Homo sapiens: one gene and its partner. Each later gene encodes a partner of the first gene's protein in a complex. Each region holds a gene or a part of one and is shown in the gene's direction. Other genes may lie near its edges. The genes, in order: APLNR and GNAI1.

Evidence for each region.
Region 2: the proteins of APLNR (region 1) and GNAI1 are in contact, whole or in part, in a cryo-EM structure (PDB 8XZF), measured with the Homo sapiens proteins. Residues at the interface, in NP_005152.1 of Homo sapiens: Arg62 (codon at 1,767), Ser63 (codon at 1,770), Ala64 (codon at 1,773), Asp126 (codon at 1,959), Arg127 (codon at 1,962), Ala130 (codon at 1,971), Ile131 (codon at 1,974), Val132 (codon at 1,977), Pro134 (codon at 1,983), Val135 (codon at 1,986), Ala136 (codon at 1,989), Ala138 (codon at 1,995), Arg139 (codon at 1,998), Arg141 (codon at 2,004), Leu142 (codon at 2,007), Ile224 (codon at 2,253), Ile228 (codon at 2,265), His231 (codon at 2,274), Phe232 (codon at 2,277), Arg236 (codon at 2,289), Glu238 (codon at 2,295), Arg245 (codon at 2,316), Leu246 (codon at 2,319), Ile249 (codon at 2,328), Ile250 (codon at 2,331), Phe312 (codon at 2,517), Asp313 (codon at 2,520), Pro314 (codon at 2,523), Arg315 (codon at 2,526); in NP_002060.4 of Homo sapiens: Glu28, Arg32, Asp193, Leu194, Glu308, Lys314, Asp315, Asp341, Ile343, Ile344, Lys345, Asn347, Leu348, Lys349, Asp350, Cys351, Gly352, Leu353, Phe354.

The regions. Positions count from the first base shown.
Region 1 is NC_000011.10:57,234,451-57,238,587, reverse strand, and holds the start of APLNR (apelin receptor), read left to right. Parts: upstream 1-1,337; 5' UTR 1,338-1,583; coding exon 1,584-2,726; 3' UTR 2,727-4,137. UniProt on the Homo sapiens protein: G protein-coupled receptor for peptide hormones apelin (APLN) and apelin receptor early endogenous ligand (APELA/ELA), that plays a role in the regulation of normal cardiovascular function and fluid homeostasis.
Region 2 is NC_000007.14:80,211,202-80,214,830, forward strand, and holds part of GNAI1 (guanine nucleotide-binding protein G(i) subunit alpha-1), read left to right. Parts: intron 1-1,514; coding exon 1,515-1,668; intron 1,669-3,629. UniProt on the Homo sapiens protein: Guanine nucleotide-binding proteins (G proteins) function as transducers downstream of G protein-coupled receptors (GPCRs) in numerous signaling cascades.

The DNA.
Region 1 (4,137 bases):
CCTGTGGTCTTACAGAAACCTCTTGGTCCATGGAGGATAGTAAAAACCTGAGAACTGAAATGTATCCATGTTCTCACCACGTAGTAATTCTTACACTTGTTCTTCCATCTATGGATTCCCCTTTTCACTCACCTCCTACATCATCCATCCACTTACTCACTCAACAGCCATTCACCTGGCTGGGCGTGGTGGCTCATGCCTGTAATTTCAGCACTTTGGGAGGCCGAGGTGGGTGGATCATCTGAGGTCAGGAGTTTGAGACTAGCCTGGTCAATCCCCATCTCTACTAAAAATACAAAAAAATTAGCCTGCAATCCCAGCTACTAGGGAGGCTGAGGCGGGAGAATCGCTTGAACCCAGGAGGCAGAAGTTGCAGTGAGCCTAGACCAGCCTGGGCAACAAGAGTGAAACTCTGTCTCAACAAACAAACAAACAAACAAAACAGCCATTCACCTACGACATGCCAGGTACTGTATTATGTTCGTGTTTGGAGAAGAAGAAAAGCAAACAATCAACTGTAGCATAATTCACTTTATTACCTTGGGCAAAACATTGACCTTGTTGGGCCTTTGTTTCCTACAGATTTAATGACTTGTTTAGAGATAATTTTGTCCTGGGTTTCTTCCATCCTGTGACTGCCCTCAACCTTCTAAAGCATCCTGTGCCTTCCGCAAACTGCAAACTGCAGTCTACACTAGTGTAGGGGTATTTCTCTAGAAACCACAAAAGTTCTCAGAGGGAGGGTCAAAGCCAAGGGGTAGAGAAAGATGAAGCGAGAGGCAAAGTGGGAGAAGACCCTCCTGTGACACCTGGTCTGGGTGGGGGCTGGGGGTGCAGGAAGGGAGCCGAGGGGGCCAGACCTGCCTGCCAGGAGGACCTGCCAGATGCCCTGCCCATCCTGCGAAATCTTACACCCTCCTTGCTCCCTACCAGCCCTGGCTCCAGCTCAAGCTGGATTGCAATCTGCATAATGTGTCCCATTTAGATTGGATGGAAGGGGGTGAGAACAGGAGGGCGGAGAGCACTGAGGAGGGAGTGCCCTAAAGGGCAGGCAGGAAGTGGTGGCCAGAGGAAAGTGGAGGGATAGGGGCTGGGGTGAAGGTGGGTGGCAGCCAGAAAGGAGAGGCGGGGCCAGGAAAGCCGACTTGCAAAACCACAGATAATGTTCAGCCCAGCACAGTAGGGGTCAATTTGGTCCACTTGCTCAGTGACAAAAAGAAAAAAAAAGTGGGCTGTCACTAAAGATTTTGACTCACAAGAGAGGGGCTGGTCTGGAGGTGGGAGGAGGGAGTGACGAGTCAAGGAGGAGACAGGGACGCAGGAGGGTGCAAGGAAGTGTCTTAACTGAGACGGGGGTAAGGCAAGAGAGGGTGGAGGAAATTCTGCAGGAGACAGGCTTCCTCCAGGGTCTGGAGAACCCAGAGGCAGCTCCTCCTGAGTGCTGGGAAGGACTCTGGGCATCTTCAGCCCTTCTTACTCTCTGAGGCTCAAGCCAGAAATTCAGGCTGCTTGCAGAGTGGGTGACAGAGCCACGGAGCTGGTGTCCCTGGGACCCTCTGCCCGTCTTCTCTCCACTCCCCAGCATGGAGGAAGGTGGTGATTTTGACAACTACTATGGGGCAGACAACCAGTCTGAGTGTGAGTACACAGACTGGAAATCCTCGGGGGCCCTCATCCCTGCCATCTACATGTTGGTCTTCCTCCTGGGCACCACGGGCAACGGTCTGGTGCTCTGGACCGTGTTTCGGAGCAGCCGGGAGAAGAGGCGCTCAGCTGATATCTTCATTGCTAGCCTGGCGGTGGCTGACCTGACCTTCGTGGTGACGCTGCCCCTGTGGGCTACCTACACGTACCGGGACTATGACTGGCCCTTTGGGACCTTCTTCTGCAAGCTCAGCAGCTACCTCATCTTCGTCAACATGTACGCCAGCGTCTTCTGCCTCACCGGCCTCAGCTTCGACCGCTACCTGGCCATCGTGAGGCCAGTGGCCAATGCTCGGCTGAGGCTGCGGGTCAGCGGGGCCGTGGCCACGGCAGTTCTTTGGGTGCTGGCCGCCCTCCTGGCCATGCCTGTCATGGTGTTACGCACCACCGGGGACTTGGAGAACACCACTAAGGTGCAGTGCTACATGGACTACTCCATGGTGGCCACTGTGAGCTCAGAGTGGGCCTGGGAGGTGGGCCTTGGGGTCTCGTCCACCACCGTGGGCTTTGTGGTGCCCTTCACCATCATGCTGACCTGTTACTTCTTCATCGCCCAAACCATCGCTGGCCACTTCCGCAAGGAACGCATCGAGGGCCTGCGGAAGCGGCGCCGGCTGCTCAGCATCATCGTGGTGCTGGTGGTGACCTTTGCCCTGTGCTGGATGCCCTACCACCTGGTGAAGACGCTGTACATGCTGGGCAGCCTGCTGCACTGGCCCTGTGACTTTGACCTCTTCCTCATGAACATCTTCCCCTACTGCACCTGCATCAGCTACGTCAACAGCTGCCTCAACCCCTTCCTCTATGCCTTTTTCGACCCCCGCTTCCGCCAGGCCTGCACCTCCATGCTCTGCTGTGGCCAGAGCAGGTGCGCAGGCACCTCCCACAGCAGCAGTGGGGAGAAGTCAGCCAGCTACTCTTCGGGGCACAGCCAGGGGCCCGGCCCCAACATGGGCAAGGGTGGAGAACAGATGCACGAGAAATCCATCCCCTACAGCCAGGAGACCCTTGTGGTTGACTAGGGCTGGGAGCAGAGAGAAGCCTGGCGCCCTCGGCCCTCCCCGGCCTTTGCCCTTGCTTTCTGAAAATCAGGTAGTGTGGCTACTCCTTGTCCTATGCACATCCTTTAACTGTCCCCTGATTCTGCCCCGCCCTGTCCTCCTCTACTGCTTTATTCTTTCTCAGAGGTTTGTGGTTTAGGGGAAAGAGACTGGGCTCTACAGACCTGACCCTGCACAAGCCATTTAATCTCACTCAGCCTCAGTTTCTCCATTGGTATGAAATGGGGGAAAGTCATATTGATCCTAAAATGTTGAAGCCTGAGTCTGGACGCAGTAAAAGCTTGTTTCCCTCTGCTGCTTTCTTAGATCTGCAATCGTCTTTCCTCCCTTCTTTCCTTGTAGTTTTTCCCCCACCACTCTCTGCAGCTGCCGCTCCTTATCCCTGCCTTCTGGCACCAATCCCCTCCTACAGCTCGTCCCCCTCCCTCCATCCATCCTTCTCCCCTGTCTACTTTCTTGTTCTGAAGGGCTACTAAGGGTTAAGGATCCCAAAGCTTGCAGAGACTGACCCTGTTTAAGCTTTCTATCCTGTTTTCTGAGTGTGAGGCAGGGAATGGGCTGGGGCCGGGGGTGGGCTGTGTGTCAGCAGATAATTAGTGCTCCAGCCCTTAGATCTGGGAGCTCCAGAGCTTGCCCTAAAATTGGATCACTTCCCTGTCATTTTGGGCATTGGGGCTAGTGTGATTCCTGCAGTTCCCCCATGGCACCATGACACTGACTAGATATGCTTTCTCCAAATTGTCCGCAGACCCTTTCATCCTTCCTCTATTTTCTATGAGAATTGGAAGGCAGCAGGGCTGATGAATGGATGTACTCCTTGGTTTCATTATGTGAGTGGGGAGTTGGGAAGGGCAACTAGAGAGAGAGGATGGAGGGGTGTCTGCATTTAGTCCAGACACTGCTTGGCTCGCTCCCCGAGTCCTCCTGTTTCTGACTTCCTGCATAACTGTGAGCTGAAGGGTTTCCTCATCTCCCCATCTTACCCCATCATACTGATTTCTTTCTTGGGCACTGGTGCTACTTGGTGCCAAGAATCATGTTGTTTGGGATGGAGATGCCTGCCTCTTGTCTGTGTGTGTTGTACTTATATGTCTATATGGATGAGCCTGGCATGAACAGCAGTGTGCCTGGGTCATTTGGACAAACCTCCTCCCACCCCCCAATCCACTGCAACTCTGCTGTTCACACATTACCCTTGGCAGGGGGTGGTGGGGGGCAGGGACACACTGAGGCAATGAAAAATGTAGAATAAAAATGAGTCCACCCCCTACTGGATTTGGGGGCTCCAACGGCTGGTCCGTGCTTTAGGAGCGAAGTTAATGTTTGCACCAGGCTTCCTGTAGGGAGATCCCTCCCCAAAGCAGCTGGCGCC
Region 2 (3,629 bases), on another chromosome or scaffold:
TTCCTCTAACTTTTCTATTTGATAAAAGAGAGATATACTAGAGAAGCACAGGTGGATCTTGAGGAAAAGGAAAACATGGAGAGTCAATCTCACCTCAAGCCTGTAAGCTTAACTATGCATTTCTGTATCTAATATCAACATAGCACATGGAAATATAGTTACATAGTAGTCCAAGATTCCCTTTTCTTAATTTGTTACTTCTGTTAGTTTAGTAAATCTTTTTTTTTTTTTTTTTGAGACGGAGTCTCGCCCTGTTGCCAGACTGGAGTGCAGTGGCACCATCTCTGCTCACTGCAACCTCCACCTCCCAGGTTCAAGCCAGTTCTCCTGCCTCAGCCTCCCAAGTAGCTGGGATTACAGGCACGTGCCACCACACCCAGCTGATTTTTGTATTTTTAGTAGAAATGGGGTTTCACCATGTTGGCCAGGTTGGTCAGAAACTCCTGACCTCAGATGAGCCACCCATCTCGGCCTCCCAAAGTGCTGGGATTACAGGCCTGAGCCACCGCACCCAGCCGGTAAATCTTTAATATATGTTATGCTTTGTTGCTGCCCTGTAATTTTCAGATAGGTTTCAGTGTACCATTAATATGGGGGAAATGTTTTTAAATAGAAATGTAAAACTTTGTCATTTTAAGTTAACTTTATTACAAAGTGGGGGAAAAAGTAGAAATGTCGGTTTTGTTCAGTTGACCCTTGAACAACGGGTTTAAGCTGCATGGGTCCACATATATGAAAATTTTTTTCAACCAAGCACATTCATGGGATGCAAAACCTGAGTATACAGAAAGCCACTTTTTCCTATGTGTGGGTTCCACAGAACTGCCTGCTGGACTTGAGTGTATGCACATTTTGGTACCCTTGGAGGTCTTTGTACTAATCCCCCTGAGTATACCGAGAGACGATTGTATTTTTAAAATCAAGTATATGAAATTATAGTGTAGTAGGTGCAGTGCAACACCACATGTTCATTTCTTTCATTTCAGCACTATAAAATGTATCAGTGCCCTCTTTGATGAGCACAGATCCTGGAAGGTCAAGAAACAGGAATTGGAAGTGTCCTTCCAGTATTTATATTTATTATAATATTTAGAGTATTGGGCTAATTGGGTCTTAGCTTGTTCAATTTAAGTTATTAATCTTTAAAAACCTCTATTTATCTTCTAATGGAAATTTAGATGAAATGAACTCTATGACAATGTCATTTCTTTTCACATGTTCACACTTCACATCCCTAGATTATAATGTCCTGTAGCAGGATATTCCCTGGCACAGAGCATGACATATAGTGGGCACTTGGCAAGTAAAAGTTGAATGCAAAAAGTGGTGAAAGATGATTAGACACTTCTCTTACCTAAAGTGAAAGTGTGTTCTGAAATGGCAGAAATGTATTTTTGTGATACGTATTTTTCAATCACTAAACTCTGTTTTATTACAACACCTTTTATTTTTTAAAATAGTCCTCAAAAATCCTTGCTGTTAGTGACGATTGGTTTTATTTTTTTCTATTACAGAACCGAATGCATGAAAGCATGAAATTGTTTGACAGCATATGTAACAACAAGTGGTTTACAGATACATCCATTATACTTTTTCTAAACAAGAAGGATCTCTTTGAAGAAAAAATCAAAAAGAGCCCTCTCACTATATGCTATCCAGAATATGCAGGTATTTTCCTTTTCTGGGAATAACTTGTCAAGTTACATATTTCTAAGTGAAACTTCCCCTAAGGCAAGAATTCAGTTGTTAATTTAAATCTCTTGGCTTAGTGATTCTTAGACCTTTAAGGGGTATTATTTATCAAACTGCAGTTGAGCATAAAAATTTCCTTAAGATGTAGATGAAATTACTGAAAATAATGTATTCATTTTATGGAAAAGCAGTTAGATAATTTTTAGTGATGACTCCAAGTTAAAATACTATTTTTTAAATCCAGTTAACAGATTTCATATCAGGTACTGTGTGATGTACAATAAATAAGACATGTCTCTGCCCACCATCTAATCTGAAAGACAGACATACTTAAACAACAGGCAATAGCAGTGCAACCTACTGCTAAAATAAGGAACATGAACATTATAGTAAGGGGAAATGAAGACAGGATCATTGAGGCAGCTAACTCTTCCAGAAGGGCAGGGAAGGTTTCACAAGAAGCCAAAACTTTGGTAATGAGACTGTTAATAGTGCTTTAATTTTACTATGATGGAAAATTCCCTGGAGTGAGGAAAGTAGACCTGAAGTACAGTCCTGACTTTTCCATAATTAGCTCTTTGATCTTGAACAAGGCAGTTAGTTCACCTAGGTCTCAGTATTCCATCTGTGAAGTCAGGAGTTGGGCTAAAACATTAGTTTTAGTTTAATTTAGTTCCTTGGAGCACCTCCTGGGTTGCTGTTGAAGGCGGAAATGGGAGAGGGAACAGAGCTAATTACTGCCCCCTGCACCCACCACCTTATAACTTTTTCATTAAAGCAGAGTAACTCAGCTTTCATCTGGTTTATGTATTGAGTAAAGTTTTACTTTAGTGAAGAGCATTCAGTATGCCTTAAAAAAACAGGGAGTTTGATTACCACTGGTTTATGTAATCTCCAAATCTAGATAGTTTGAAGAGTTTAGTTATTTACCCTCACCCCACTCTTCCTGTTTTTTTTTTTAAAAGTCTCAAGAATTTGTTTTTTTATAAACAGAATTTTCCTCAGTCTTGTGTTGAGTAAATTGTACGATGAGTATTCACTGCCATTTTACAGGAAATGTTAAGACAACCCTGTGATGTCAGTGCTCAGGTATCCCTACCCATACAAATGAGAATACCGGGGCTTCCTGAAGCCAGAGTCCAGTTCCAGACCCAAGTCCATTGTCCTCCTGCTCCTAGACCATGAACGACTAGGCTACATTTAATTAAACATTCAGTGGAACCAAAAGGGGAGGGTTCTTTGGTAAATATAATCATGTTACTTATAGCTCTTTTTGTGTACGGTGAAATTACACTTCAGTTCAAACTAATTTCACACATTTACTTACTTTAAAACTTTGCTTTCTTTTTGAAAGTCAAAGTCCTAAATCACTGTATTCAGCAACATTTTTTTGTGCTTATTAGAAATAAGCTACCCAGAGTCAAGATGGCTTAATTTTTCCCTTATTTGAATATATTTTTCAGTTTATTTTTATCATATTCTATGATGTAGCCATTTTGTACTAATTCATAGTACCAGATTCCCCAAGTGAATCCATAAATATTGTATACCTACGGGGATTTTAGAGCAACTAAGAATATACTTGTTAGCTCTTTCCTTGCCAAGTAGACAGTGTGTTTAGGAATTTTTGCTTGTGTTTTGCTTAAGTTAATAAGAATACCTGACTTCAGAATCTTTGCACAAAAAGAATATTACATAATTCTTTCACATCCCCAGAGTTAAGATTATTGTTTAAGATCTCCATGGCATGCCCAAAGTATTGATTCAGTTGCTTCTTGCTTCAGCCGCAACTCTCAATTTCCTGTGGCTGTGGAAGAACCCTGTGTAGCCCCTAAACAACTCACTTGATTTATCTCCTGTCTGTCTGCTCCTGTGTTACCCTTCTCCTCCTCTTCTTTTTCCTGTATGTTGCCACTTCACCAGTTTCATCTGCAGTC